Homo sapiens: one gene and its partners. The protein of the gene in region 2 interacts with the protein of the main gene of each other region in a pairwise test. Each region holds a gene or a part of one and is shown on either strand. Other genes may lie near its edges.

The links.
Region 1: the proteins of BAG3 (region 2) and CTDSP1 interact in binary tests that used the Homo sapiens proteins (3 or more experiments, as listed by UniProt).
Region 3: the proteins of BAG3 (region 2) and GGN interact in binary tests that used the Homo sapiens proteins (3 or more experiments, as listed by UniProt).
Region 4: the proteins of BAG3 (region 2) and MLF2 interact in binary tests that used the Homo sapiens proteins (3 or more experiments, as listed by UniProt).

What each region holds. Positions count from the first base shown.
Region 1 is NC_000002.12:218,395,217-218,402,880, reverse strand, and holds the start of CTDSP1 (carboxy-terminal domain RNA polymerase II polypeptide A small phosphatase 1), read right to left. Parts: upstream 3,014-7,664; 5' UTR 2,791-3,013; coding exon 2,724-2,790; intron 2,479-2,723; exon of another isoform or gene 2,394-2,478; coding exon of another isoform or gene 1,928-2,393; intron 1,318-1,927; coding exon 1,169-1,317; intron 956-1,168; exon of another isoform or gene 771-955; coding exon 666-770; intron 533-665; coding exon 476-532; intron 236-475; exon of another isoform or gene 159-235; intron 1-158. UniProt on the Homo sapiens protein: Preferentially catalyzes the dephosphorylation of 'Ser-5' within the tandem 7 residue repeats in the C-terminal domain (CTD) of the largest RNA polymerase II subunit POLR2A.
Region 2 is NC_000010.11:119,654,370-119,661,389, reverse strand, and holds part of BAG3 (BAG family molecular chaperone regulator 3), read right to left. Parts: intron 1-7,020. UniProt on the Homo sapiens protein: Co-chaperone and adapter protein that connects different classes of molecular chaperones including heat shock proteins 70 (HSP70s), e.g. HSPA1A/HSP70 or HSPA8/HSC70, and small heat shock proteins (sHSPs), e.g. HSPB8.
Region 3 is NC_000019.10:38,385,031-38,391,954, forward strand, and holds the start of GGN (gametogenetin), read right to left. Parts: upstream 3,005-6,924; 5' UTR 2,945-3,004; intron 2,820-2,944; exon of another isoform or gene 2,793-2,819; 5' UTR 2,731-2,792; intron 2,251-2,730; 5' UTR 2,232-2,250; coding exon 391-2,231; intron 1-390. Other genes in the region: SPRED3 (sprouty-related, EVH1 domain-containing protein 3), read left to right, coding at 5,273-5,449, 6,916-6,924. UniProt on the Homo sapiens protein: May be involved in spermatogenesis.
Region 4 is NC_000012.12:6,750,142-6,757,120, forward strand, and holds the start of MLF2 (myeloid leukemia factor 2), read right to left. Parts: upstream 3,001-6,979; 5' UTR 2,798-3,000; intron 2,776-2,797; exon of another isoform or gene 2,741-2,775; intron 2,222-2,740; 5' UTR 2,194-2,221; coding exon 2,144-2,193; intron 1,914-2,143; coding exon 1,784-1,913; intron 1,536-1,783; coding exon 1,500-1,535; intron 626-1,499; coding exon 572-625; intron 165-571; coding exon 36-164; intron 1-35.

The DNA of each region.
Region 1 (7,664 bases), on a different chromosome or scaffold from region 2:
AAACTGTACCCACCCCCCGCCAGAAAACGATCAAAACTTCCACTCCACTGGCCAGTCCTACCTCACGAGGTCCCTAATTCCCAATCCCTTCCCCTGCCTCAACCTCAGCCTAGTGCAGGAATCCAGGGGCAGCCCCCTCACCCCAAGGCTGCAGGGCACCGGTCCCCGAGCCAAGTAATGGAGAACAGGCTGGACAGCACACAACCTATCCTGAATTACTTGAACTGGGTCCCGGGCAGGGTGGGGCGAGGGAGCACAGCACGGGGGAGCCTAGAGGAGGAGCCCACTCTGCAGGCTTGGAGTCAGCACAAGCCCTTGAGGTTCTGTGTGACTTTGGGACAAGTCTCACACCCTCTCTGGGCCTCTGACATTCCACATGTATCCAATTCCCATCCGAGGCGCTCCGGATTGGTGGGAAGAGCCTAGGGTCTGGAGGCAGATGCCAAGCCCACCACTGCCTCTTCCTGGCCCTCACCTGGTGGACCACCCCATCAATCTCCACAGGGATGATGAAGTCCGCGTTGTTCACTGGCTGTGGGGGGAAAAGAGCTGCTGGAGTTGGAGGAGGAGCCCCAGGGCATGGGGTCCAGCACACACCTCCCTCCCAGGCCAGGGTGGGGGATGCCCCCCGAGACCCGGGCTGAGGGCTGTTGAGCAGGGCCCACCTTGAAGGAGCTGTGCACCAGGGTCTCGTCCAGGTCGATGACCACGCAGATCTTGTCTGAGTCCTGGGCCTTGGCCTCAGGGAGCAGGTATTGGACTGGGGTCTGCTGTAGGGAGGGCGGGGCTGGCTGGGGTGCCTCTCTCCGGGCCTGGTCCTTCCTCCCACGCAGGCTTCTCCCCCTAGCCGTCTCCAGAGGAACCCCAGGCCCCAGGAACAGATACTTCCCCCTTCCCAGCTTTGCCCCTGCCAGCTCTAGGGCTTGGGTAGGCCTCTTGGCTCTTTGAGACCTCTCTAAAAACCAAGGTAGGAAAAAGCTTCCACTTATGAGGGAGAATTCAGTTTCCCCACAGTGGGCAGGGCCTGGCAGGGGAGGCTGCCACCCTCCTACTCTGCACCTTTCAGGTCTGCAAGTCCATCCTGAAAAGCTCAGTCAGGAGCCCCTTCCCCTAAAGCCCTGAAGACTGAGTCCAGGTGCCCCCGTGGCCCCACCTGGCCCCCACGCACCTTAGGGATGGCGCCATTCTCCTCCACAAGCAGGGGCGCCCCGCTGTGAGCAGGCAGGGCCTCCCCATCATCCCGGCAGACACAGCAGAAGAGTGAGTGGAGGATGCCCCGGCTTCGGGGCTTCTGGGAAGCTGCTGACTTCTGGTCACCTGAAGTAGGGAGGCACAAGTTGGAGGCTCGGTGCACACTGGCCTGCAGAATCCTGCATGTGTGCCCAGGTGTGAACCCCTGAGCCAGGAGGATCTTGCCGTGGCCCCTTCATCCAGACACACGAAGGCAGCTCCTGACTTTCTCTGAAACGCCCCTGTCAGGGCTCCACAATCAACTGCAAGGCTCCTGCAGCTCCCAGACAAATAGGTCTAGCAGGTATTAAGGCGCCCACATAGGGAGTGCGTGGCCTGGAGAAGGAGGTCCTGGGGTGCTCTCTCCCTGCCTCTCACAGCCTCCATGACTGCTGCTGATCAGCCCCATTGCGGTGCCTCCTGACCCCACCTTACCTGAGCACCCCTGCTCAGGACAGCCAGGGCCTGGGACCCAGGGCAGTCCACCCCTGCCCTCCCTCCATCCTCTCCACCCCCGTGGGTACGAAGTCCTCACTGCGGCTGGGCCCAGAGGCAGGGGTGCAGTCCCGCGGCCTGGGGCCAGTGTCCAGTGGCCATCTGTTTGCCCTGCCCCGCCCAGACCTCCGACCTGGAGCCCAGCAGCCTGATTGACAGATACCCCTCCCACCCCACCCCCCTCCGGCCCCCTGCAACTAGCCTTTCCACCTTGCCCTCAGTTCCGGGGCAGCCAGACCCAGGCGAGGGTGGGCAGACCTGGGGGCAGCGTCCAGATCCTGAGGTCCACACGGGGAAAAGGAGAAGACAGACCCCCCCACCCCGGCCCAGCCACGCTGGGGGACGCAGCCTCGTCGGGGCGGCGAGGCTTTGCGGGGTGGTGCGTGCCCACTAGGCGCACGACTCTCCCCGCGGGCGCCAAGCGACTCTTGGAAGTGCCGGCCGTCCTCTCTGTGCCTCCGAGGGGGTCGGCGCCTCCACGCGTGACGCGAAGTTTGTGGGGAACGTAGCTGTGTGTTGGCGGGAGATCCCTCCAAGCCTCCCCAGCCTGCTGTCACCTCGGCGCCCCCTCCCAAGACCCTACCGGACCGCAGCCCGGGGGGGTGGGGGTGGGGGGTGGGGCGGAGTCTCAGCGGGTGGCCCATAGGCGCCCTCCTCAGCTCCCCCATCTCCCAGCCCCATTGGCGCCAATGGTGGGGGGGCGCCCATGCACCACGCAATGCCTGCCAGGAAACCCCCGAAGAGTTCCCTCTCTATTCCTGCCTCAGTTTCCTCACCTCGAGCGAACAGGAGCGCCCCAAAGGCGCCAGGCCCCGCCCCGCGTCTCTGAGCCTCCTCTGAGTTCAAACTCTCTCCCTGCTCCCTCTCGGGCTGGGAGCTTCGGGCACAGCTAAGGCGGCCGCCCGGGGCGGCGGCGGCGGCTCCCCTGGGGAAGATCCCGGCCCCTTCTCTCCTCCCACGGCGCCCCGGCTTCGGCCCCCTCCCCGCAGCCCCGGTACCTTTGCCCCGCAGCGGGCCCCGAGCCTCCTCCTTGCTGATCTGAGTAATGACGGCCGAGCTGTCCATGGGGCCGGGCGCGCTCCGCTCCGGCCGGACTCTGGCCCGGGCGCCCGGCCTCCCCCCCGGCTGGGGCCGGAATCGGGGCGCGGGGGGGAGGGGAGGGGTGGGAGGGAGGGATCCCCGCGAGCTCCGGAGGGGAGGGGAGCCAGGTTCTAGGGGGGAGGGGGAGGGAGGGGGCGCGGAGGAAACTTTGTTACAACATGGAGTTTCCTTCCCGCGAGGCGGATGCAAACATGGAACCCAGGCGCCGTTTCAAGGCTCCCCCTTAAAAGGGCAACGGCTTCGGCGTGACCTGGACTCGGCTGCGGCTTTCGCCACTTCTGGGACCGGCGCGGCTAGGCGGACTGGGAGGCGGGCCGGGCCGGGTTCCTGCCGCGCTCCAGGGGGCGTCGCCTCCCTTCCTGCCGCCCGCCGGCGGGGCTGAGTCTCTGCGGCTGCGTGGCAGGCCCGGCACCCGGCTCACCGTTCCAGGCCGCCGAGCGCCCTCGGCCAAGGCCCGCCCGCCGGGAGCGCCCACGCCGGGGAGTGCCCGAGTGCGGCGCGGCTCCACCTCTGCGTTTTCTGAAGACCCGGGACTAGAGGCTTCTCGGTTTCCTCGTTGAGGACTTGGAGATAGCACTACCTCATCTGTAAAATGGGTCTTCTCTCCTGTCTGGTGGTCGCAGAGATCACCTCGCAAGGACGTCAAGAGCCAGCGAAGGCTCTGCTGGCCCGAAACAGCTGTGCAAACCTCAGAATCACGCTCTTGAATGGGACGGTCGCCGCCCCCCGCAGCCCCAGGGCGAGGTGCCCCCGGTCTGTAGGACGTGAAATTCTAACTCTCTGCCCTGGGAAAGCCCCCTGCCGACCTCTCCCCACGGCCCCACCCGGGGCCCCGCACGTCTACCCGCCGCGCACGGGCCACCGCGCGTTCCCGCCTGAAGTTTTCGTACGCGCTGTTCCTTTCGCGTAGCCAAATTCCACCGACCTCGAGGAAATGCCACCTTCTCCAGGGGCCTTCCCAGACCCCCTCCCCTGCCCGCGGTCGACGGCCGCCCTGTGATTACTGGGGGTGCGGTGGGAGTCACTGGACTCGCTGCCGATCCTAGGAGCCCAGCACGGCGCCGCACGCGGTGGGCCCAAAGCCCGACCGTGGGGGACCTCAAACCAGAGGCCCTCAAGGCCCGTTCCACCCGGCCTGTGGCGCAGTGCTGGGCACTTGGGAACGGAGGTCCCTGTCTTCTCGCTGCAAGCCCCTCCGTGGTGCGCGCCGTGGGTCTGCGGGTTGGTCTTTTTCCTCGTTTATGAAGTTCTTTTCACTCGTCGTTACTATTTTGTAAGTTCACCATTTAAAAATTAATAATGCCAAGCCCGACAAACACCCCTCGGCACTTCCTCCCCTCCCCCTCTCCCGCGGGCCTCCGTGGCGGGGCGGGGCGGGCGCGTCCTGTCCCGTCCGGCCGCCGGGTGCGACGCGGCGCACGTCCGCCAGGCCCTGCCGAGGGGGAGCCGGGGAGGGGAGGCCCCGCGCGGGGGCCGGGAGGGGAAGGGAGGGGAGCGGCGTCTGCCAGAAGGCGCGGCGGCTTCGTGCGCTGAGGCTGGGAGTAGGGGCGGGAGGGGACTGTCGGGGACTGATACCCCGGTCCCCGGGCTGGATCCCTCGGCCCTCCTCCTGCTCCTGGGTAGCCCACGGGGCGGCCACCATTGCGCTTCATCACCGTGATCGCCACACGCTGCTGGCGTTTTCCTAGGCCTGCTCTGGCTGCGCCCCCTAATCTCATTTACCCCTTAGAACGGCCTCCTTCTTAACCCATTTCACAGATGAGGAAACTGAGTTTCAAGAAAGGAAGCGACGTGCTTCGGGTCTACCGGCAAGGGCAAAGGCGGGATTCCAGCCTGGGAGCGGGACATCTGTCTCCCCTGCGGTCCGGCCCCCTGGGTGGGGCCTCGGCTTTATCTCCGGATGCGGGGCCCTCATGACCCCAAAAGGAAGCGTGTGGCGAGGGACTGAGTGGAGTCGTGGCCTCGCCCTTGGCCTGGGTTGGGTGGCGCGCTTTCCTCTCCCTCTGTGAAGGGGGCTGGTACCTGGCCGGCTGTCCCCACACCCACCATTCCCAGACGCGCCATCCTGAGCTCACAGGATTCCTCAGGAATCCCCCACCTCCTCCACCCCATCTTATCGCCACTTCAAGCCGTTGCCCGTGCAGTTCTTTTCCCAGGGAGACCTAACTCCTCCTCCCAGGCTCCCAAAGCGGCAGAGGTAGCCGCGCCTTCTGCCTGGAGCCCTGGACTTATCTCCCCACGCCTGGGGCGGGTAGTTAGTTACGGAGTGAGCGAGAGGCCAGGATTGCGTGGGGGGAGGGGGGTCCTTCGAGTGTCCTCACTGTAGGGGTTGTCTACACCCAGCTGCCCTCTGTCTCTACAGGTGGAGGTCGCTTTATGCACTCTATTTTTTGTCTGTTTTATCATTCGCACCCCAGGAAAAATAAAATCATGGGGGCCACAAGTCAGAAACGGGGAGGGGCAGGAACGGGATTCAGCAAGGTGCTGTCTGGCACCTGTGGATTTGGAAGCGTCTCTTCCAACACAGTCCCTCAGTTTCCCCATCTGCCAAACAGGGCTGGTAAAAGCCCAACCCAGGGGGAGGCGGGGAGCCGTGCACAAAGTCGGGGTGCATTCAGCAGGCTCTTGGGGAGTGCCAAGTGCGACCACGCCCTCCCTGGGAGGCCTAAAGGGAGCTTCCAGAAGAGCAACTCTGCACCCCTCTTCCTGGAGGGTCGATTTGAGGCCAGGCTGGAAGAACCAGAGCTACTATGGGGGGAATGGGGGCAGCTCTAAGTAGACGCCTTCCAGTGTCCAAATGACTGACCTTGGCGCGACCTCATCACTAGCCCTTTGCCCAGGTCCTGGGTAGCCCTTTAGCCGGGTCTCCGTGTCTTCTTGACCAACCTGCCCATTACTCTGCCGTCCCCCGTCCTGCCCCACAAGATCTAAGACGTCCCCAGAAAGCTTCAGGTCTTGGCAGATGTGCACACACGTGCCCCCATGCTCCTGGCACTCTCATTCCTCCTGGGCTGTCCTGTCAACACTCCCCCCTACCGCCGACCCCCCCTTCAGCAAGATTCAGTCCCCTTCCCTGGCTGGCGTCACGGGCAGCGCCCTTCACCGCATCCTGCCACAGGGACTTGTTTGCACAGCTGTCTCCCGCCGCTGGAGTGTGGGGTCCTTGAGAACTGACATCTTTAATTCGGGACTTTGCCGCCCTCCCCAACTTGTAACACAGAGCCTGGCAGAGGACTGGCACTCAATGCCAAGAGGGGTGTGTAGGGGGTACAACGGGGGCACTTCCAGGAGGCTAAAGGATCTGGGAGATGCCTTTCTTCGCTAAACGTCCCCCATCCATCTCCTCCTTCAGCTGGCATGGACCCATCTTCTCCAGTGCCAAACCCAGAGGAGGCGGGCGGCCCTCTTGCCCAGGTACCCTCTGCAGCGCTTGCCCAGGTCGCACCAGACCGGTCCCATCTCTTCTCTCCTTGAGGGACCCACTCGCATCGTTGCCCTTTTAAGAAAGAGGAAATTCTTCTCATAAACAAGCGTCCGGACCTGAGCGCGGAGCCAGGCCGCCTGCCCTGCTGGGTCCCCAGGAAATCGGGGGTTCTTCCAGGTGCAACACCCGGCCCAGGTTCAACTCTAGGGAAAGGCCTGTTGGCCTCTCCTCGCTGCGGCCCTCCGCAGGTCCTGGGCTGGGGTCTGAGGGACCCGACGAGGCTGGAGGAGGGACTTGGGGGAGCCTAGAAACAGCCTAGGGAACGTCTATAAAGTGCAGCCCCTGAATGGGGCGAATGGGTGCCCAGCCGCTCCCTAAGGCAGAGGGGGCTCCCCGCCCACACAGCTTCCTCCCACCCACTCTCCCCGAAGGATTCTGGGGCCCCTGGCGCGAGCCCCGAGCGCCCGCCTCCCCGCGTCGTTCCGCCTGGCGGGGAGGGGTGAGGCCGGGGCGGGATGGCGGGCGTCGGGACCGTCTCTGCCCCTAGGGGGAGCAGTCAGCAGAGAGGGAGCGGTAACGGCGCGGCGTGGGAGTCGCGGCCGCCGGCTCCCCTGAGGAAACAGCAAATAATTTGGGCCTCAGAGGCACAGACTCTTGGGTTCCTTATGACCTGGTGCCTGACGGAGAAAGAAGTGCGCCGCCGTTTTACTGTCTGGAAAATGGGTTGCAGGCGGAACAGAAAGGCTGCGGCGAATAGGAGCGGACCAGACCCTGGTGTAGGGGTCTTCTGGATGCTTTAGAGACTTCGTGCCTTCCCGGTTCCCATTCCCTGCTCCTTTGGACGAGAAGGGAACTAGTATTTATTTAACTTTAATCAGGCCGGGTTTGGTGGCTCACGCCTGTAATTCCCAGCACTTTGGGAGACGGAGATGGGCGGATCACTTGAATCCAGCAGTTCGAGACCAGCCTGGCCAGCATGGCAAACCCCGTCTCTGCTGAAAATACACAAATTAGCTGGGCGTGGTGGCGCGCGCCACTCCCGGGGCTGAATAAAGAGAATCGCTTGAACCCAGAAGGTGGAGGTTGCAATGAGTTAAGATTGCGCCACTGCACTCCAGCCTTGGCAACAGAGGGAGACCCTTTCCCTGTCTCAAATAAATAAATAAATAGATAGATAGATAATTTAACATTCATCAGACACTATTTCAAGCTCCAGTTTGGAGCCTGTGTCCCGCCCAAGTCCTCAAGCCCTCACCCCACCCACCCTTGGGCTGTCAGGTCACGCCTGCAGGTGCTCAATAAATACCTTTTGAAATGTTTTTCGTTTGTTTGTTTTTGTCCCAAGTGCCAGACACTGTGTTAAAGTGCTTAACCTCCATGGCAAGGGTGGTGGTGTCTCCATTTTACAGATGAG
Region 2 (7,020 bases):
ATTTCCCAGGGGTTTTTGCAAGAGTTAAGTGAAATAAGGTACGAAATAAGGTACAAGTCTTTGTAAACTCTGAGCTGCTCTGTGCCCTAAACAATTGGGTTTCTTTTTCTTTCTTTCTTTCTTTTTTTTGGAGACTGAGTCTCGCTCTGTTGCCCAGGCTAGAGTGCAATGGCACAATCTCAGCTCACTGCAACCTCCGCCTCCCGAGTTCAAGCAATTCTCATGCCTCAGCCTCCCGAGTAGCTGGGATTACAGGCACCTGCCACCACGCCCAGCTAATTTTTGTTTTTGTTTTTGAGACGAAGATTCACTCTTATTGCCCAGACTGGAGTCCAAAGGCATGATCTCGGCTCACCACAACCTCTGCCTCCCGGGTTCAAGCGATTCTCCTGCCTCAGCCTCCTGAGTAGCTGGGATTACAGGCATGTGCCACCACACCCAGCTAATTTTGTATTTTTAGTAAAGATGGGGTTTCACCATGTTGGCCAGGATGGTCTCGAACTTCTGATCTCAAGTGATCTTCCTGCCTCAGCCTCCCAAAGTGCTGGGATGACAGCCGTGAGCCACCACGCCCAGCCACAATTGCATTTCTTTATTCCACAAATAGTTATTGATGGACTCAGCTTTTCTCCAGCACTAGCTGGTTGGGCTTACCGTTTACAAAGCCTAATTCTTTTTTTAAAAAAATATTTATTTATTTATTTATTTTAGAGACAAGGTCTCACTATGGGGCCCAGGCTGCTCTCGAACTCCCGGGCTCAAGTGATCCATCTGCCTCGGCCTCCCAAAGTGCTGGGATTACAGGTGTGAGCCACCGCGCCCTGTTCAACAAAGCCTAATTCTTTAGTCTGTCTCACCAAGTTGGTAGTAAGACAGTTAGAATTAGAAGCCCCTTTATCTGAGAGTCTTAAGAGGACTAATTAGCAAGGATGTCACTTTCTCTGCTTAAGACTTTATCTAAAGTTTCACAGCCTGGAAGCAAAGAGCCAAAGACAACTCTAGGGACCTGAGCCCTAAACGACCCACCTCTCCAACAGGCTGGGCCGCTGCTCTGGGGAAGAGGCCTGCTCTGCAGACAAACTCCTGGCTGAGCAGGGCGCCCAGCCGCACTGACTGTGGTTCCTTGACACATCTCCCTGAGGCCTAGAGAGAAAAGCCAGGCCAGGCTGGGGCACAGAAGGGTCCGCCTGGGAGCAGAACATCTGCTGGCGTCTCCTCAACATCCTCGATGGCCCCTCACCAGGGCACACGTCAGCCGTCTCCAGGCCAGGCACCATCCGCAGCTGCTGGTATTTCCCCTGCTGGGGGCACCTGAGTCAGCATCCAGCCTCCCTGCAGCCCCAGCCCTGCAGCCTGCCTCACGGGTTCCATGTGGCAGAGGTAGGAACTGGAATGTGGCCCAAGGTCACATGAAGTTAGCTTCAGGGCATGTTAGAACCTACCTACCTCTTCTTCAGGGGAAAAAAAAAAGAGCGGAGCCACCTGCTTTAATCAAGCCAAAGTCACAAATCACAGATGGAAACTATCTGAAATTTCCATCCCAGGAAGCAAACTCTGAATTTAGACAGAGTCAAGGAAAAGGACCTCTCTCAACTGCTACATTTCCATGCTAAATGGAATGGTCAGCCACCTGGCAAGTCCATCCTCCAGACACGACCCTACAAGTGCCTGTTAGGTCTCAGTGTACAGGACATCAGCGGACGTGTATTCTGTACAAAATACAATTTCCAAAAGAAAAACATCCTCAGTTCATCAGCTGCCATGCAGGCAAGGGGACCCTCTCTGATGGACGGTGAGACCCCTGAGTCCCGGGGGGGCTCTGCTCCCACCTGCAGTGGCTTCTCAAGCATTCGGTCCACAGCAGCCACACCCCCCAGAAGAGGGTGGTGGCACTTGGAAAACCCCTCCTTCCTTCCATCTGCGGTGACATTTACACCCCTGAGAGCTGGGTCCAGAAGAGCTGTGCAGGTAATCGGCCCCTCAGTAAGGTGGGCTGATGTCCCCCCTCACAGGCAGCGCTCCTAGCTCCTGCCTGGTACTTTGCGGCTGCACAGACACAGCTGAGGGAGACCCTCCCCTTGAGGAGCTGAGGCTGAGTAAAGCCAGCGCTCTACACAGCACAGTGGAGGACACAAGGACCCAGCCTATCTTGGGCAGAGGATGGGGAGATGCATCTATGGACGCATGGCGCAGGGTCTGGCAGCTGGGTCAAGGCTCCCGAAGGCCCCGCAGCTTCATCTGTTACTGTTCCTTTACATCCTCCACTCACAAGGGGCACGGGAAGCCCCAGGGAGGGCTCCAAGGGCCACCTGGACACTGGTCGGGGGAGTCAGCTACACTCCATACAAGGGGGATAAGAGGAGGCCTTGCTTCTAAGAAACAAGACCCCAGGCCTCTCTGAGAGCTGAAAGGCCCACGGACAGCCAGGACAGTCTGCTGTGTGGAGAGGCCACACACCTATCCACAAACACACTTCTACTCCACAGAGCAGGCTGCATATGTTTCCGGGAGTTCCACGCATGCATCAGTTCAGGCTTTGGGACGTTCGCCTCCCACACACCATCTTCCTTGATTCTCCCAACCCTGCTAACAGAAGTGTTGCTATGCCCACTTCACACAACGGGAGACTGAGGCTCAAGAAGGGTAAGTGCTTTGCCTAAGATCTCTAGAACCCAGGTTTGTCTGATGGTAAGGCCAGGTAGATGCTAACCTTTCTGCTACTCCTGTCACAGCTGTACACTGTGATAACATCCATGTGTCACTAACGTCTCCAAAACCTTCATCTCCCGGGGTAAAATGCAGCAGGAGAGGCAGCAGGAGAGAAAGGCTTCCATTTCGCCCAGCCACGCTCGGCTGAGGCTCAGACCTGGAACATTCAGTTCAAGTGTGCTCTGGGTCAGGGAGCCAGCGCTCCATGCTGAGTCATCAGGCCAGCCAGGCAGGGTACACGAGAGTGAGAGCACTCAGCTTAATTCTGAGTCACCACAGCCCCAAGACTGCAGGGACGCCCGGCATGGAGCGCTGTCAGAACCGGGGAAGACACCGTCCAACCCAGGAAGGAGTGCTAACCCCGCTGGGATGCTGGGGGTCTGAACTGACCCTGAAAGGGTGGGCCAGCGAAGGGGCTGGCTTTTCTTCTGCACATGAAGGGGCCTTCCCATCCTCCCACTGTATGAATTTTTAAACCATCCATTCATTTATTCATTCATTCAATGTCAAGGAAGAATTTTTTAAATAACTGAAAAAAATATATAATTCTACTTTAATAAACACTGAGGAAGATACTTTAAAACAGCAAACGTTTGTTCTCCAATTGAATGCTAAGGAATTTTCCGTAAAAAGTCTCCCCAGTTCACTGGGGCACAGCTCTGTGCTGGGAGCTCTTGGACAGCTGAGCTGTTTACAGGCTCCTGACGCACAGAGCTGGCACTCTGCGATTCTAGGCTTTTCTGAATTGACAGTGAATAAGAACCTTCACGTATACGGTGTCTGATCTTGCTGCCAGCCACACGAAAAAAAATTTTTAAGAGACTCTTTTCACAGTGCCAGGGGCTGCTCTCTGCACAGCTATGGAAGTAGGGTCTGGCTGCTGCCAGCTCCCAGCCTCTCCAGCCCTGCTGTAAGATGCTGTGTCATTGGGAGAAACAAAAAAGAGCTTCTCCAGACCTGTAAGGATGAACTTAGGGAATCAATACTGAAGTCCTTTGTGCAGAGAAGGCCATTCACAAAGTGACAAAAAGGAGCAGGCCTCTGGGGACCTTTAGGAGCCCAGGACAACTCTGCAGTTCTTAGGAACCAATGGAAGGCTTCCCGGGACACACCTGCATCCTTCACGGGCAGCTCTTCTGTATCTGCCTTCGCGCTCTGGGCAGGCCCATGTTCTACCCTTCTCCACAGTCACTCGTTCCATCTTTTCTGAGCCTGTGGACCCTGCCAGGCATCAAGAGGCAGCGATGAAGCACACAGACTCTGCCCCAGAACTCCTAACAGGGGTGTGACCCCAAGACAAAGCAGAAAAGTGCAGAGCTTAAGCAAAAAGATTCAAATTAAAATAATATGGGTTCCAGAAGAGAGACAGCCTGCTTCGGACCAGGGAGAGGCAGGACATGCTTTGTGGAGAACAGTCTCAAAGTGGGCAGACTTGTCCTCTATATGGCATTTAACACTGTGACTCGCACACTGTGGGCACTCAGTGAATTTCAGATGGGGTAAAGGAGTGAGTAAAGAGTCGGGCCCATCTCCTAAATCCAGACCCAGGTTCAAGAAACAGGCCAACATTTCTGATTAACTATACAAAGATGGACTCAGGGCTGTTTATCACCTCAAGCTGTGCCTGGGGAGTATAAAGCAGCCGTGCCTGGGGAGTATAAAGCAGCCAGGCCCGCTAAAGGCAAGTCTGTCTGTCACCCCTTCAGGAACTCAGATGGGGGTAAAGCCACAGAAGTCTTTCTGTTTATCACAGGCCAGGCACACTGCCTCTCCAAATCTGCTGTCCCATGTGTAAGACACTTCATAGTTTCTAGTTCAAAGAGCTGGTGAGGATTTAGAGATAAGGTTACCAAAAGCACCCACTCATATCTGGCACATATATATATATATGTGTGTGTGTTGACAGACAGAAAAATACTACATTCATTCCTCTCCCCCCAAATTCTTCCTAAGCTTTTGCAAGCTGCCTGGCTTCCTAAAAGGCTGCCAAGGTCCCAAAGATACCTTCATCGAAATACGTGACGACTTAGTAACACCAGATACCTCACATGGTATCACATGTGCCACATGATGCATACAGATGAATCCTGCACCTGCAAAACAAGGGGCTCTGGAGCCTGCCTCAGACGGCCGGCTGATGGGCATGGTGGCGCTCACCTATAATCCTAGCTACTTGGGAGGCTGAGGCAGGAGAATCGCTTGAACCCAGGAGACGGAGGTTGCAGTGAGCCAAGATCGCACTACGGCACCCCAGCCTGGGAGACAAAGTGCGACTCCGTCTCAAAAAAAAAAAAAAAAAAAAGAAGGCCAGCTGAGTCTATGCTCTGAGGCAGAAGCAGATCAGAGGTGTCTACTTGACTCACAACAAAAGGGAACCCAGGAGGGGCTGGAGAATAACACGGTCAAGTGTGACACAGGGTTCACTCGTGTTCGCCAGTGCCAGAGGGTCTCAAAGATCCTAATAAGCAAGGCCTTTGTCTTCAGTTTCTTCTGTAAGCTCTCTTAAACATTTAAGAGCAATATTAAAACAGCAAAACTTAAAGGAGAAAGAGTAGGTCTGGATGATGAATGGTTTTCTACTTTGGATGATAAACATCAGAACATCATTTTTAAATGTCAATAGAAAGTAATAAACATGTAGAGTGGTTTATATAAGGTGACTGTGTGTCATTCCAGAAACGAGGACAGCACTAAGCAAGCCTCATGGGTGGTATGAAGCTTTCTGACTCACAAGCAGCCCTGATAGCATCCAACAGTTAAGCCTTCCCAGCCCTGGCCAACGTCAAACGCTGCCGCAGGTCCTGTGTACAGGCTCCACCCTCATAAAGGGCAAATCTACCCTACAAAACGGGACAAATGATGTTCTCGGAGGTGCAGTCGGTTCTCATGTGAACAACACAGGCTGTTCTTCAGAGGGGAAAATGAAAGTCCTGGATGAGCTGGGCTCCAAGGCATCTGGCCATGCTGTTCATCTGCCCCCCAACAAATCACTTTCATGCAGTCGCACAGGAACTTGCTCAGCCACAACTGCAACTTGCTGGAAATACGAAGGAGAGAACGGCCACTCATTTCCTGATTGTGCTCCGCCTCTGCTAAGAGGCATAACAGCTTGCAATAGATCTGGAAAGAGCAAAACGATCTCATCTTTAAGAAAATTCAGGAGGCTCTGCTGAACCTTAAGCAAAATAAATGGGTCTCTCTACTTCAATCATAACTCGAAACATTTCCAGTGTTATCTGAAAGGATGTTTCTATCTCCCTGTCACAGTGCCTGAGTATAATCTGTTAAATGATTATGGTGAGATTCTGCCAGATGGGCAAGACAAAAAGAAAAGGCTCTGGCTTGCTTCTTCCTGGGGTCCAGGAAGATCTCTGGACCACCTCCCCACTCTCGCACTGCCAGCCACCCTGCCAGACTTTGCAAGGTGCTGTCTCGGCTCGCTTCCCATGTCATCCCCATATTCACACCTCCAGAAGCCCGCGTACCTGGGGAGTTTCCCCAAGAAGGAAAATGGAGGCTTGGGAAAATGCTCTGCAGGATAGATGTTCAGGAGGCACTAAGCCGCAGCTCCTCCTCCCCAAAATGGGATCACTGGCCATCCGTGGCTCCCACTGCCAGTGCAGCAGAATCAGAACCACCAAAAAAGCTTTCTGGACTTAATAGTTTTCTGGGCCCTACACTGAGCAATTCAGATTTGAACATGGGGTTGGGGCAGGGAGGCGATGAGACACAGCCACAATCTGTGTTCTTAACAGGACTCCCTGGAGAGTGCCAGACTGGTAACCCCCAAGATCCATGGAGCTAGAGCGGCCCTGCTCCATGAGGGAGGAAGGTCTCCCTCTCATCCCAAGGAGGCCTGGCGGGAACAGCACTCCAGAACATCCGGCCTCTGTTTATTCAGGGAGGAGCCTGGAGGAGTGGCTGCACCAGCACTGAATGCCATCCTCTGCCAGGAAAGGGCCTGGACTGGTATGAACTTGCCAAATTAGTGGGAAGCCCAAGTGTGCAGAAAATCAAAATCCAGGAAGACTGCAGGTGGGGAGGCCCAGCTGCTTAGAATGGGGCTGGATGAAGCCCAGCATCTTTGCCGGGAGCCGTCCTGCTTCAGCAATGACAGAAGATACTTGCTTTCGCTCTGCCCCTCTGTGAAAACAGGGAGTTGTCCTAACTACTTCAGGAGAAGGCGGAAGATCAACTGCAAGACGGCAGTAGAAGACGAAATAAAATACAAAGGTCTAGTCTTTTCTTTCCATTTTCTTACTAACGTGATTAAATTTTAAACATCCTGAAGCTGAGTCCTCCCCCAAAAGA
Region 3 (6,924 bases), on a different chromosome or scaffold from region 2:
AGACAGTCATCCCCTCACCCCCATCCCTGAGTGGCCTCGGACGTGGTCCTCCTTGATACCCTCAGGGACAGGGTCAAGGCAGTGTATAGGGTCAGGCCAGCTGGGACCAGCCTCCCTCTCTAATGGCTCCAAGAGAGGTACAGGAGGGCCAAGAGTCCACTTAGGGATTGGATGCCATAGGGCTGGGCCAGGGTGTCCCCCTTTCCCCGTCAAAGGTCAGCATGGGATCATGGGTCCTCTTGGTCCTGAAGGGTGGGAGCTCAGCTAGGTTTGAGATGTGGCAGAGATGAAGGCCACGGGTCATTCTAGGGTCAGGAAGCCAAAGGGCTGAGTAGGACTCTATCCAGCAGTCTGGGGTTCGGCACCCTCCTGTCCCTTCTCCCCTCTCACCAGGCAGAGACGTTGCGTGGCAGGCGGCGATGGCGTGGCTGGTGGTGGCAGTAACACTTGCAGGGACAGGAGTTAAGCACCTGGAAGGGCAGCCAGTGGCGCGCAGCGCGGGTGTTAGCTGCCCCAGTCTGAGAGGCCCCGCTGCCACCACCCCCTCCACCACTGCTGTCAGGCACGGTAGCTGTAGCTCGTTCGCGAGGACCATCTCCATGCAAGCCATCCTTACGGGTCGCGCCCCGGGCTGCACGGGAACCCTTGTTCCTGCGCGTGCGGGTCTTGATGGGCGCAGCCGCGGGTGCGGGCGCGGACACAGGCGGCGAGGGCTCAGCCACGGTGGGAGCTGGAGCCGGGGATGGGGCCGGGGCCTGGTCGGCGGCTAAGGCTGGGGGCAGAGCAGGGGCTGCGGTGGGAGCCAGGGCTGACTCCTTGTGGCCCAGACCCGGGGTGAGCGGGGGAGCCACCGGCAGCGGCGTTGGCTGGAGCGCTGGTGGCTGCAGTGTGGGCGGCGGTGTGGGCGGTGGCAGCGGTGGTAACTCCTGCAGGCCTGGAGGCCCCGGGCGCATGGGCTCGCCATTGGTGGGTGCTGGGAAGATGAACGTAGGCGGCGCCAGCAGGGCAGGTGCGGGCCTCCGGGGCCCGGGAGCTGAGTGTATCTGCTCTGGTGGTGGCGGAGGGGAGCCCCAAGGCCCAGAGAGTGCGGCCGCACGCCGTCGCGGCGCCCCGATGCCTCCGCCAGCCCCGTTGAAGCGGAAGTGGCGTTCAGGGCCGTCGGGAGCGCTAACCCAGTCGAATTTGGGCTTCGAGCCTGGGAAGGTGGTGTAGGGTGGCGGCGGTAGGGCCCGGGCTTGGGACGCAGGCGCCGAGGGAGGACCAGAGCACCCTTCGCCGTCTCCATCACCTCCCTCGGCTTCCTGTGCCCCTCGAGAAACCTCTCCCAAGGGGCGAGCGGCTCCAGGAGGCAGGGGCCCTTGCTTCAGGACCTCGGCGTAAGAGATGGCACCTGAGGCAGCAAAGAGGCCGCCGCCTCCGCCGCCCCCCAGCGAAGCTTTGGCTGCTAAGGAACTCGAGGCTGCCGGAGGGGCCAAAGAGGGCCTCGACTTGAAGGTGATTTTACACAGCAGGCTCAGACCGGACTCGGAATCCGCAGGCTGGGCCATTTCGCCTTCGCCCGCATGGGGAGGCGCCCCTCCGCGAGCCCTGCCGGCCGTCTGGCCCTGGTTGCGGGGCCCAGCCTGGCTTTCTGTCGGGGGTGAGGCGGGTGTGGCCAGAGCAGGAGTGATTCTGCGGTCCGCCGGCTGCCGTTCAGAAGGTAATGGTGGTGGCGGCTTCCAAGTCTCCAGGGGCGGCGGAAATTGGGATGGGGCCCTCGGGACAGTGTCCTTCACGGATAGTTGCCGGGGCGGCGGCGGCGGCTTCAGCGGGCGGAGGCTCGGAGGGTCGCCCTGGCCGCGATGGCTCGCCTCCAGCAGGCGGCGGATCCGGGGAACTGGAGTGCCCGCGGGCTTTTGCCATTTAGACGGGCCGGGCAGCAGAGTCCCCGCGGGGGCCGGGGGTGGTGCAGAGACCGCGGCCGCCTCTTCAGGAGGGGGCATCACTGGAGAGGGCCGTTCTAAGGTGAGGGGCAGGGTCGAGGGTGAGGCCTGGGGCTCCCGGGGTACCATGAGTCCCGGGGGTGTGGCGCTGCCAGGGAACCAGACACCCAGCCCACGAGTCAGGCGCATGGCCTGGGAGGTCATCTCGGGCTCCACCAGGGACGTCCGGCGGGAGTCGGGGGCGCGGTCCGAGGGCTGCACTTTTCGGGAGCCCCCGCCCGCGGATGGCTCCGACTGCAAGTTCCCCATTTCTGACGGAGCTCGGAGACTAGTCAGAAAAATTTACTCCAGTCAGCCTGCCAGGGCCGTGGGGACCCTACGAGGCTGGCTGTACTTGATCTAATGCGTCCGCACCGGCCCCGCCCCTGTTCTCCAAGATCCGATCAGGCCCAAGTCCTTAGGTCGCACTCCTGTTCCCCGACCTTCGACACTCACGCCTTCTTGCCCATGTCCCCAACACAGCTGCTGTTAAGATACTTCACTACCAGCCCCATTATGTACTAAGGTTCCATGCCTGTCCCCTTGGCTGGTCATGCTGATCCCTCAGTCCTCTCCTCTAACTCTCCGACTCCCCGCCTCTCTCTAGAGCACCTGGGTCCCGCCCTCTTCCCAGGCAGGGGCAGATCCTCAGGCCTCACCCCTAAACCTCTTCCCGCTCCAGGTCTACTAGCTGGCATCCACAGTCAAGCTCCACCCCTGTCCCCAAGCTCCGCCCTGGCCCCGCCTCCCCCCAGAGGAACCCACTCACCGAGTCCTCCAGCCGAGCAGAGTTCAGACCGCGGCGCCCTGGGCCCGGGGCAGGGCAGGGAACTGCCGTAGCAGAAAATAACCGAAAAGAACGGGGGTGCGGGTGAAGGCAAGTGGGCGAGACAACTAGGGCGGACCCCGAGATGTAGGCCCCGCCCCCGGAGCTCGAGGCCCCGCCCTCCTGCGAGCCCGCGGGAGCCCGGCCCCTTACGAACCTAGGTCTCCCCTTGAAATACTCCGAGGTCTTGTTCCTCGCCCCCAGGCCTTCTGGTTCTAAGCTCCACCCCTTTGGGTTGTTCTCCTTAGCCCCTCCCCTTTAGAATGTCCCGCCCCTCTCATTCCCTCCCGAGGCCCCGCCCACGCGAACACCGATGCGTCGCTCCTCCCCTTTGGACCTCTCATCTGCCCCGCCCCTAAGGCAATTTACCTCTAAGCTCCGCCTTTTTAAGACCCGGCAACATCGCTTCTCAAGACCCTCTCCTTCCCCCCGGGCGCCGAGAAGGCCCATCCACCGTGGGCCCGCCCCTTCGTGACGCACGCACTAGTCCTCGCCTGCAGCATCCAAACCTCCTTATACCCAGGCCCTCCAACCCCACCCACTTGTGAAGGCTCCCCTCTCGCCCCACCCCTTATCGAACTCTGCCAGGCACCCAAGCCACAGCGTAGACCACCACCTCTTTAGAACCTTGAGACCAGTCCCTGTCCCTGCCCCGTCCCCTCCTCATAGCATTAGAGACCAATGGCGCAGATGGGTGGAAAAGTGGGGGATCCCCTCTGGATCTTAAGAAAATGGGGGCTGGGGGGTTGCTCTCTGGAGCTAGTGCCGGGCTCTAGGACCCAGCAGGCAAGTAAGCCCGCCTCGCTCTTACCCCTCCCCCAAGCCGCCCCTTCCCCCCCCACCCGTCTTCCAGGTTCCCCCTCCCTCCCCCCTCGCCCCGGCTCCCGGTGCCCGTCTCCAGCGCCGCCGGAGCCAGCCAGGGAGCCGGAACGAAAAGGAGGAGGAGGAGGCCGCGTCGCCGCCGCTCGGAGCCCGGCCGGAGCCTCGCAGGCAGGTGCCGAGGGGGGCGAGGGGGCGGGGGCTGACAGACTGCCTGCCCCGATGAGGGGGCGGCCGTGACCGCGCTGCGCCTTCTGCCCACCCAGGCGCCCCCAAGGCCCCGGCTAGGAGGACTAGAGAGTGGGGACCCCCCAAACTGCGCGGCAGCCATTCAGGGTACCAGTCTTCATTTGTGGGGTCTGGACTTTCTCCGAGGATGCCCCATTCACAAAATTCCGTCCTGGACCCTCACCGTTGAGGAACGCTGAGGACCACTCCCCCCGGGGGACACAGGATGTGTGGGGAGCGTAGGCCACCCTGAAATGCCAGTGCCCCATTCCAGCTAGGCCCTGGGGGGACCCCTGCTCTCATTCCCTGCTTCACCTGTTGTCGGGGGAGGCGGGCGGACAAAGGAAGCAGCGTCACGTGACTGCTCATTCACAAAATCCCATCCCATTGAGAAAAGGGGGCTGGGGGCGCTGCAGCCGCCCCTTCCCCTCCTGAAGGGCCCGGGAAACCCAGCAGCCTGCAGGTGGGGGAGGGGGCTAGAGCTCGTCCGGGTCCCTAAGGTTGGGACGCCAGGGTCCCTGTGCTGGATGGCAGTGAAGGGCTGGACACTGATCCCGATTACTGGGCGGAGGGCTACGTCCTCTGAGCTGGGGGGCGGGGTAAAATGGTTCTGAAGGATGCTGGGGCTGGGGGGCGGGAAGGGAAGAGGGAGGAAGGATCAATCTGCCCCCCCATCCCATCTTTCCCCCCTGGCTTCCCTCGGCTGGGGCCTGGGGGAGCAGCCTTGATTTTTGTGAATGAAATGCTCTCTGGATGTGTCTTCGGTCGCCCGTTTCTGACTTCCTCTGCCTCCGTCTCCCTCTGAGCCTCTCTTTCTGGCCATTTCTGGTTCTCTCCCTGTTCCCTGCCCATCTCCCGTTGCTGGGTGACTCAGTGAGCTTTGCATCCGGTCTCATTCATAAATCCGGGAAGGGGTGGGTGGGGGGGAAAGAGCCTGGGTTTCTCACCCAGCCTGTGGCCTGGACGACAGGGTGCGGAGGCAGGGTTGGGAGAACAGGAGCTGAGTTGATGGGCCCAGAGAAAATATATATGCGCAGGCACCCAGCTGTGAGGGGGAGCACTGGGTGGGGCTGTGGGTATGTGCTGAGGGAGGAGAAGGGGGTGATAGGGATAAGCAGGAGGGGGAGGGAAGGGCAACACCAGGGCTATGGGGGTGGGGACGGAGAGATGGGGGAAAGGTGGGTACAGAGAGAAAGGGCAGACATGGAGAAGAAGATAGAGGTGAGAGAGAAGAGATGGCATGAGGAAGAAAGGAGCTGTGTGGAAGACGGTGGCCATGGGGTTGAAGGTGGGTATTGCTAGCTTAGGGTGCAGTGGACCTGGACGTGAGAGATGAAGTTGGAGGGGAGATGAGGGTTGAGGGAACATTCCATGGGAGAGCAGGGTTTGAGCTCATGACTGTGTTGTCCCTGTCCTTCCCCCCACCTCCTGCAGGTACATGGTGCGGGTCCGAGCTGTGGTGATGGCCCGAGATGACTCCAGTGGGGGCTGGCTGCCTGTGGGGGGCGGGGGCCTCAGCCAGGTGAGCGTGTGTCGGGTCCGAGGGGCCAGGCCCGAGGGGGGGGCCCGCCAGGGGCACTACGTCATCCACGGGGAACGCCTCCGGGACCAGAAAGTGAGCCACCCTGGGGCATGCGGGGAGGGTAGGGACCTGGGGAGGGAGGGGAGAGGGGCTGGCATGTGGAGCAGAGGTCAGGTTGCCTCCCAGCCTAGGAATCAAGCTGGGGTGTGAAGTTTGGGAGTGAATATCTGTCCTGTAGATAAGAGTTGGGAATTGCAGGATACATGGGGTGTTTGGAGGGTCCTGTCCACTGCCACTTCCAGCCAGACTATCCTCGCTGTCTCCCTGTACTGCTCCTCCTCCCCGCTCCAACCCCAGGCTGTTCCACAGGGGGCACTGCCCCCCCCCCCCCGCCCCGACTCACACCATGTCCCTCCTCTGCTCAAAACCCTCCATCTTGCTCAGAGATCCTTGCCACGAGGCCCTACACCACCTGGCCCCTGTCTGCCCTAAGTATAGTGAAGCATTTGCTGGGGTCCATTTGAAAGTGTCAGAGATGGTTGACAATTCTATACATGGGTTCATCAGGAATAACTGGGCTGTCGGGCACAATGTGGAGGGACAGTGTTGAATCAGTTTCAGCTAGGGATGTAGTAGAAAGATATGGATTGTGTGAAAGGCTTGGGGGAAAGGTTTTTTTTTTGGAGCAGGAGTCAGTGGAGGGATTTGAAATGGAGTGAAGGAATATGGTGATACTAGGCAAGGATTTGAGGGAACATCAATAGGGTGTTGGCTAGCATCTGAAGGGGAATCTGTGGAAGTCTGATAAGACTGTTTTGGAGTAAGTGCTGGCTGGGTACAGTGCCTATAATCCCAGCCACTCATGAGTCTGAGGCCGGAGGAATGCTTGAGTCCAGAGTTTGAGACCAGCCTGAGCAACACAGAGAGAGCTCATCTGGAAAAAAAAAAAAAAAAAGAGAGAGAGAATATTTTTTGGGTAAAGTTTCCAGAGATTATTATCAGAAGAGGATTCACAATAATATTGTGAGATGTTCAGTAAAGTCTGGGAAGTATTGTTGAGCCAGAGGGGGGATGTTGGGTTATCAGAAAGGGGTTAACAATGTTTTGGGCCATTCAGCAAGATTCGGGGTTTCTACAGGGGCATCAGAGGGAGGTATTAGGAAAATGTAGGGATCAAGGGGTTGGGAAAATATTTGAGCATCAGAGGTGTGTTCAGTAAAATTGGGCGTAGCTGGGTGTGGGGGTTCATGCCTGTAATCCCAGCACTTTGGGAGGCTGAGGCAGGAGGATCACTTGAGACTGGGAGGTTGATTCCGTAGTGAGCCCTGATCACACCACTGCACTCCAGCCTGGGTGACAGAGTAAGACTGTTTCAAAAAACAAAACAAGTAAAACTGGGGAGTCGTATCAGTGTTGATCAGAGTTCAGGGTTACACTTAGGGTTGGGAAATGAGGTTTGTGAGAAGACACTAGGGTATGCATGGGGGCTGGTGATGGACGAGACGTCACAGGCATGTCTGGGTTGGGGTATCTGACCCTGCTTTCCTTCTGCCCCTCAGACAACCTTG
Region 4 (6,979 bases), on a different chromosome or scaffold from region 2:
TACCTTCTCTGGGACAGGAGGGCTCCCCAACTCACCCCGCCTGGTGCCGAGCGCATCTCTGATGTCTCTTGGTAGACCTTGGGGGCACCATCACCCGTATTGGAGTAGGAGATGACAGTGGAAGATGAGAAGGTCTGGCAATTGCCTCCAGCTGTCATGTGTTCCTGAGGACAGGGTAGGTAGGGGAGGGCTGAATGGGGAGGCATCACCCCTGGTGAAGGGATTTCACCCTTCAGCTGCCTGTTCTAGCCTGTATCTTTCTCACAAAATGCAAGAACTGAAAAAACATCAGGCCTCATCATTACCCTCCCAAATTCCTCTGAGTCCAACCACGAGCAAGAAGGACCTGAAGAGACAGGGCCTTAATTGTATGCTACGTAAGAGAGCTGCTGCCGGCTGCTTCAGGCAGGCATGACAGCAGGTACAGGGTCCCAAGGCTCTCTGGTTCAATTACTTTATCCAGTACTTTACCCTTCACTAGCATACTGTTTCCCTCTTGCCTTAGAGGATGCAAGGTGTTGTCAGCCATCACTGAGAGCAAGGCCGGGGAAGGGTATGGGGCAAGTCTCACCATGTTTCCAATCATGTCATTCATCATCCCAAACATGTCCATGAAACCACCCGACTGGAGGAAAGAGATGGAAAACAGAGTCAGGAAAGCAAAGTCAGTGTTCAGAGTTGATCCTGTTTAGGAACCCACAACCCACATGGCTGCACATTTCCTTTCTCTTCTTCCTTCACATCTAGCAAGTTCTCTTTCTCATTCTGTTAAAATAACCAGAATACTCATATTTCTCCTCCTGTGAACTGCTGACCCCTTCCTCAGTCTCTGTGACTGCTGTGATCCAATTTTCCTTCTCCTGCTTGCTATATTCCCCCCATCTTTAGGAAGCAAGCCAAAGTAATGGATTCTAAACTCTAAAGAGGTAAGGCATGAAATTGTTAAAACCTACCAAAAAATCATCTCTAGTTGGCCCTTTAACTGCACTTCCCTCCTCAAAAGAACAAATTTTGCTAGACAATTACATCTTCCTAATGCGTATGAACTTCTAGGAGTACAACAGTTAATAACATCTTTTCTTTTTTTTTTTTTTGAGATGGAGTCTGGCTCTGTTGCCCAGGCTGGAGGGCAGTGGCGCAGTCTCGGCTCACTGCAATCTCCACCTCCCGGATTCAAGAGTAGCTGGGACTACAGGTGTGTGCCACCATGCCTGGCTTTTTTGGTATTTTTAGTAGAGACGGGGTTTCACCATGTTGGCCAGTCTGGTCTCGAACTTCTGACTGCAAGTGATCACCCATCTCGGCCTCCCAACAAGAGTTTAACACCTTTAACCCACAGGGCTCCTAGTACCCAACAGGCTCAGAGCTTTGTGAATGCCATAAAAAGAGAAGATTCTGGGGTTACTCATGAAACTATTCCTAAGAGGCACATTTGGGAATAATATCTAAGGGTAGAGAGTGTGTCTGAGATGGAAGGACACAGGGAGATAAAGACTCACCATTCCCAGCATCCCAAAGGGGGAGACAGCTCCAGCCTACAGGAACACATGAGGAACAGAAATTAGAGACCACATCCTATCTCTTTACAATCCCAAACCAGGCCCATGGCCTCAATTTTTTTCCATCCTCTCAAAAGGGAGTCACAAAGCCCTTTTTCCTGACCCTTTCCCCAACTCCTAGAGCATTTCACTTGCTCAGTTGGCTGTAGTGCAAGAAAATTAAGTGCTTTCCTAACTAACCTCCAACCTTTCTTTGGGTCTCAGGTGTGTCTCAGCATCATTACCTGCTGCATCCGGCGGCTGGCAGGCCTGGTCCCTGGCATGTTGCCATCTGTGATGCTGAGGAAGGGGCTATATCCAAAGCCACCTGACAACATACGGCTCATATGCTGACGGTGAATAGCAAAGGGATCCCTGTGGAGTGAGCACATAGTATGGATGGCAGAAGCGCCAAACTGTCAATCCCTCCACCACCCTGCAAAAAAATACGCACAGAGCAACAGTGGCACCGATGCCTACTTCCTGCTAGGTAGGAGCTAGGTATCCAGCCAGTTCCAACCATTCCTAGCAATGGGAACCCCGATGTCTGCCTGAACTGCTCAGAGACCTGGAGTGGGAGAGCTTGAGGGGGAGGGAATACTCACATCAGGAACATGGGATCCTCAGGCTCCACGTCCCTCATGAAGCGGAACATCCTGATCTCAGCTCCAGGGGGCTCCACACTGGAAAGATATGGAAGCTCAGATACTTGGAGGTGGCCAGGGTTTTGCACACCCACTCAGTGTGGGGACTCTCAGAGCACTGTCCTTTCCAAATCCTGTAACTGACCCCCTAAACTCCAGGGAGACCCTACTCCAGGTGTTCCACACAACCCTCTAGGGAGGGAAGGGCTCTTCAAACCTCTTTCTCAATTAGGGCCATGGAAAATTTTTCCAACCCTCTCGGTTTTTCCCTCCCCCACTCAGAGCCATCCTCTTCCCAAAGCTCTGGCCGGTAGCATACTCTCCCCTCCTCCCGCCGACGACACCGTTCTAGATGAGAATGCCAAGTGCAGGTCCTCCGCCCCATTAATGACCCCAGTCACCCCGCCCCCTCCTTACACTCAGGCCTCCCCCAGGCGGGCCTCACTAAGCCCCCCGCGCCTGTCTGCGACTCCTCTAGCTCCCGCCTCCCCGCCAGGCGAGCAGGAGAGGTAGGCCTGAGCCTCTCCTCTCCCCACCCCGCATCCCGGGCTCCCAGACCCTGCAGCCCCGTGGGCCCGCTCCCGTCCGGGGCTGCCAGCTCTGCCCGAGCCTCACCAGTGCCCGATTCGGGCTCAGCGGCCCATCCGGCCGGTTTCGCTTCCCGGTACGCTGCAGGGTCAGGGTCGCGGCCCGGAACGTGGGGATTGGTCCGGGCTTGAGCTCCTCGGCCTTCCACGCCGCCTCCTCCCACAGCTGCCACCTCCGTACGGCCCCCTCGGCCAACGGAGCCCGAACCTCGGCCAGGCCCGGGCGGAAGTGACGTCACGATAGACCCGCCCACCCGGGGCCGGGCCGTGGGAGCCCCGCCCCCTGGCGCGGGTGGTGAGATGGCTGGGGCCGAGTCCCAGGGGCGCCGGGGCCATGGGCCAAGCTCAGGGGAGCAGAGCCTGAGGCCGAGAGGGGTCCCCTGGGCACGAAGAAGGGGAGCTCATTAGTAACCTCGATTTGGGTTCTGTGGACTGGAAGAGGCTCCCATAAGGCAGGGGAGGAGAAGGAGAAGAGGAATCCATTCTTCGGGAGGGACCGGGTTGGAGGTTGAACCTGGGGGCGCAGTGCAGCACGTTCTCTCTCCCTCCTCAAGGGGAAACTGGAGGACGAGGGGCAGATGCCCCTTGGGGAGAGGCGGGCGCTCTGTGGGCGACGAGGCGGGGCGGATCCCTGGGGGGAGCTTTAAGCCGACTCTACTGGAGAAGCAGTCTACCCTAGAGGGAGGATGGGCAGTTTTCCTGCGGGGGAGGCGCTTGGGCCTGTCCCCGCTTGAGGAGGAGCGTTCCTGGCAGGGCGGAGTCCCCGGAGTGACGCAGAGGAGGTGAAACTCTCCAGCCCAGATCTAGTTCGGGCTTCAGAAAGTCGGATGGGGCAGAGGATCCAGGTTGGGGGGTTGGCCGCCAGATGGCGCTCCTCGGCCAGGCTGGAACCGGAGGCCCTTGAGAACTCGCGTTGGAGAGGGACCTGGACCCTCCCCCGTTACCCATCTGTGAAGGGTTGGACTGGGGAAAGGCTACAGTTCTGAATCTATTAGTTTAATGCCACTCTCCCCTTCCTTTTACTCTAATTCTTGTGTCCTCAAGAGCTCCCAGTCCTGCACTGACCTTTCTTGGTTGCTTTCTTAGGTCAAAGGTCTAAAGTTTGGGGGAACAAAGGAGTGGAGAGCTCAGTTAACCTGGATCACCCAGGGGAGGAGCTAAAACGGGGCCCAGAAGACCTGCCTCCAAGGCCAGAGACTGATACTTTGACATACTAAATGTCTTGCATAAAATCTGGCTCTGCTGGAGAGAAGGGCCTTCCCCTTTGGGGTCAGGGCATTTGGACTGTCTAGGATGGACTTTAACCAGACTCATCCAAACTCCAGCTTTCCCTGGTTCTTTACTCTGGCTTTTAGCCATATTAGTGCTGTGTGGAGTCTGACCCAATGAGAAAGACTTGTTCCCAGTAATTCCCTGGGGGAGAAAGAGGGGGTCCCTGGTGACTCAGGAAAAGGTGCTAGGAACAGGGCTTCTCACGTTTCTTTGGACTTGATCATTATTAAAGAGGAAAAAACAATAATAGAGACAGGGAGCAGAGATAGATAATTAAGATATAAGCTGACAGACTGGCAAGTCAAAGGAAAACAGACAGAATACAAGTAAATTTGTTTTTCATTGCTATTTCTGGGGGAAGAGACTTAGTAAAATCTTCTGTCTTCCAGATCTCTGCACTTCCCACCATGCAACTTCCCCTTATCCTCTTGCCCCAAATGAAAGCAGTTTGACATGTGATCAAGAGTTGTCCCAGTAAAGGTTCTGTGGCTGAAACTTAACTAAAGAGATCCTATCCATTTTTTTTCTTTTGTCCTCTCCTCCTTCTAAAGCAAGTTCTTTATTGTCCAGCCAATCAACAAATGTTTAAGGCCTGGCGCAGTGGCTCACGCCTGTAATCCCAACACTTTGGGAGGCTGAGGCGGGCACATCACAAGATCAGGAGTTCGAGACCAGCCTGACCAACAAAGTGAAATCCAGTCTCTACTAAAAATACAAAAATTAGCTGGGCGTGGTGGCACATGTCTGTAATCCCAGCTACTCAGGAAGCTGAGGCAGGAGAATCGCTTGAACCCAGGAGATGGAGATTGCAGTGAGCCAAGATTGTGCCACTGCACTCCAGCCTGGGCGACAGTGAGACTCCGTCTCAAAACAACAACTACAACAAAAACGAAAATTAGCCGGGCATGGTAGCAAGCACCTGTAATCCCACAAGTAGGCTGAGGCAGGAGAATCACTTGAGCCTGGGAAGTGGAGGTTGCAGTGAGCCGAGATCACGCCATTGCACTCCAGCCTGGGGGATGGAGCGAGACTCTGTTCCAAAAAAAATAAAAATAAAAATAAAAAGCAAATGTTTAATGAGGCCTGGAACTGTCCTAGGTACATTGTATTAAGCATACATACAAAATATAAGACACGGTCTCTGCCAATTGAAGGCATACAGTCTTGTAGCCACCTTTTTCTTTTTTAGTTACCTGTTATCCGTTTTTTTGTTTTTTTTTTAATTAAATTGTAGAGATGGGGAGTTTCATCATGTTGCCCAGGCTGGTCTCAAACTCCTGAGCTCAAGTGATTCGCCCAAACTTGGCCTCCCAAAGTGCTGGGATTACAGACATGAACCACTGTGCTCAGCCACCTGCTATCCTTTACGTACCGCCTTTAGGTGCCTAGAGTCCTTTCTCTTCTTCCTTCCAAAACTTAAGAATCTGCTGGCCAGGCGCGGTAGCTCACGCCTGTAATCCCAGCACTTTGGGAGGCCGAGGTGGTTGGATCACTTGTGGTCAGGAGTTCGAGACTAGCCTGGCCAACCTGGCCAACATGGCAAAACCCTGTCTCTACTAAAAATACAAAAAAATTAGCCAGGCATAGTGGCACGTGCCTGTACTCCCAGCTACTTGGGAGGCTGAGGCATGAGAATCGCTTGAACCCAGCAGCAGAGGTTGCAATGAGCCGAGATCTTGCCACTGCACTCCAGCCTGGGCGACAGAGCAAGGCTCCGTCTCAATAAAAAAAAGAAAAAAAAAAAAGGAAATTGTTGGCCAGGCACAGTGACTCACACCTGTAATTCCAACACTTTGGGAAGCCAAGGCAGGAGGCTCGTTTGAGCCCTGGAGTTGGAGACCAGCCTGAGCAACATAGTGAGACGTTGTCTCTTCAGTAAAAAAAATTAGCCAGGTGTGGTGGTGTGTGCCTGTAGTCCCAGCTACTTGGGAGGCTGCGGTGGGAGGATTGCTTGAGCCATAATCACACCACTGCACTCCAGCCTGGGAGACAGAGCAAGGCCCTGTCTCTAAAAAAGAAAAAAAGAAAAAAAAAAAACCTCTTGAACAGGTGAGGATGAAAGAGCAAATGCAAGAGCCCATTTTCAGAGTTCTTGGAGACATACCATATAGGCAGTTGTCTACTCCAGGAATTAAAGGGATGTAATTTTGCAAGTAACCAGAGTTTGTGTCTGTCTTCCTTCTCCGGGTCTCTCCCTCTCCTTCATTTCCTTTCCTCTCTTCTCCTTCACTCTCTTCCTCTCTCCCTTCCTCCATCCCTCTTGTCTTTTCCCTCTCTCCCTCCCTCTTTTTTTTTTTTTTTTTTTTGAGACGGAGTCTCACTCTGTCGCCCAGGCTGGAGTGCAGTGGCACGATCTCGGCTCACTGCAAGCTCCGCCTCCCGGGTTCACGCCATTCTCCTACCTCAGCCTCCCGAGTAGCTGGGACTACAGGTGCCCGCACACCTGGCTAATTTTTTTATATTTTTAGTAGAGACAGGGTTTCACCGTGTTAGCCAGGATGGTCTTGATCTCCTGACCTCGTGATCTGCCCGCCTCAGCCTCCCAAAGTGCTGGGATTACAGGCATGAGCCACAGTGCCCGGCCCTTTCTTTCTTTATCTTTCTTTCTCTCTCTCTCTCTTTTTCCTTCCTCCCTCTCCTCTCCTCTTTTTCTTTCTTTCTTTTTCTTTCTTTCTTTTCTTCTCCTTCCTTCCTCTTTTTTTTTTTTTCAGAGTTTTGCTCTTGTTGCCCAGGCTGCAGTGCAAAGGCATGATCTCGGCGCACCACAACCTCCGCCTCCCAGCTTGGGTTCAAGTGATTCTCCTGCCTCAGCCTCCGGAGTAGCTGGGATTACAGGCATGTGCCACCACGCCTGACTAATTTTGCATTTTTAGTAGAGACAGGATTTCTCCATGTTGGTCAGGCTGGTCTCGAACTCCCTACTTCAGGTGATCTGCCC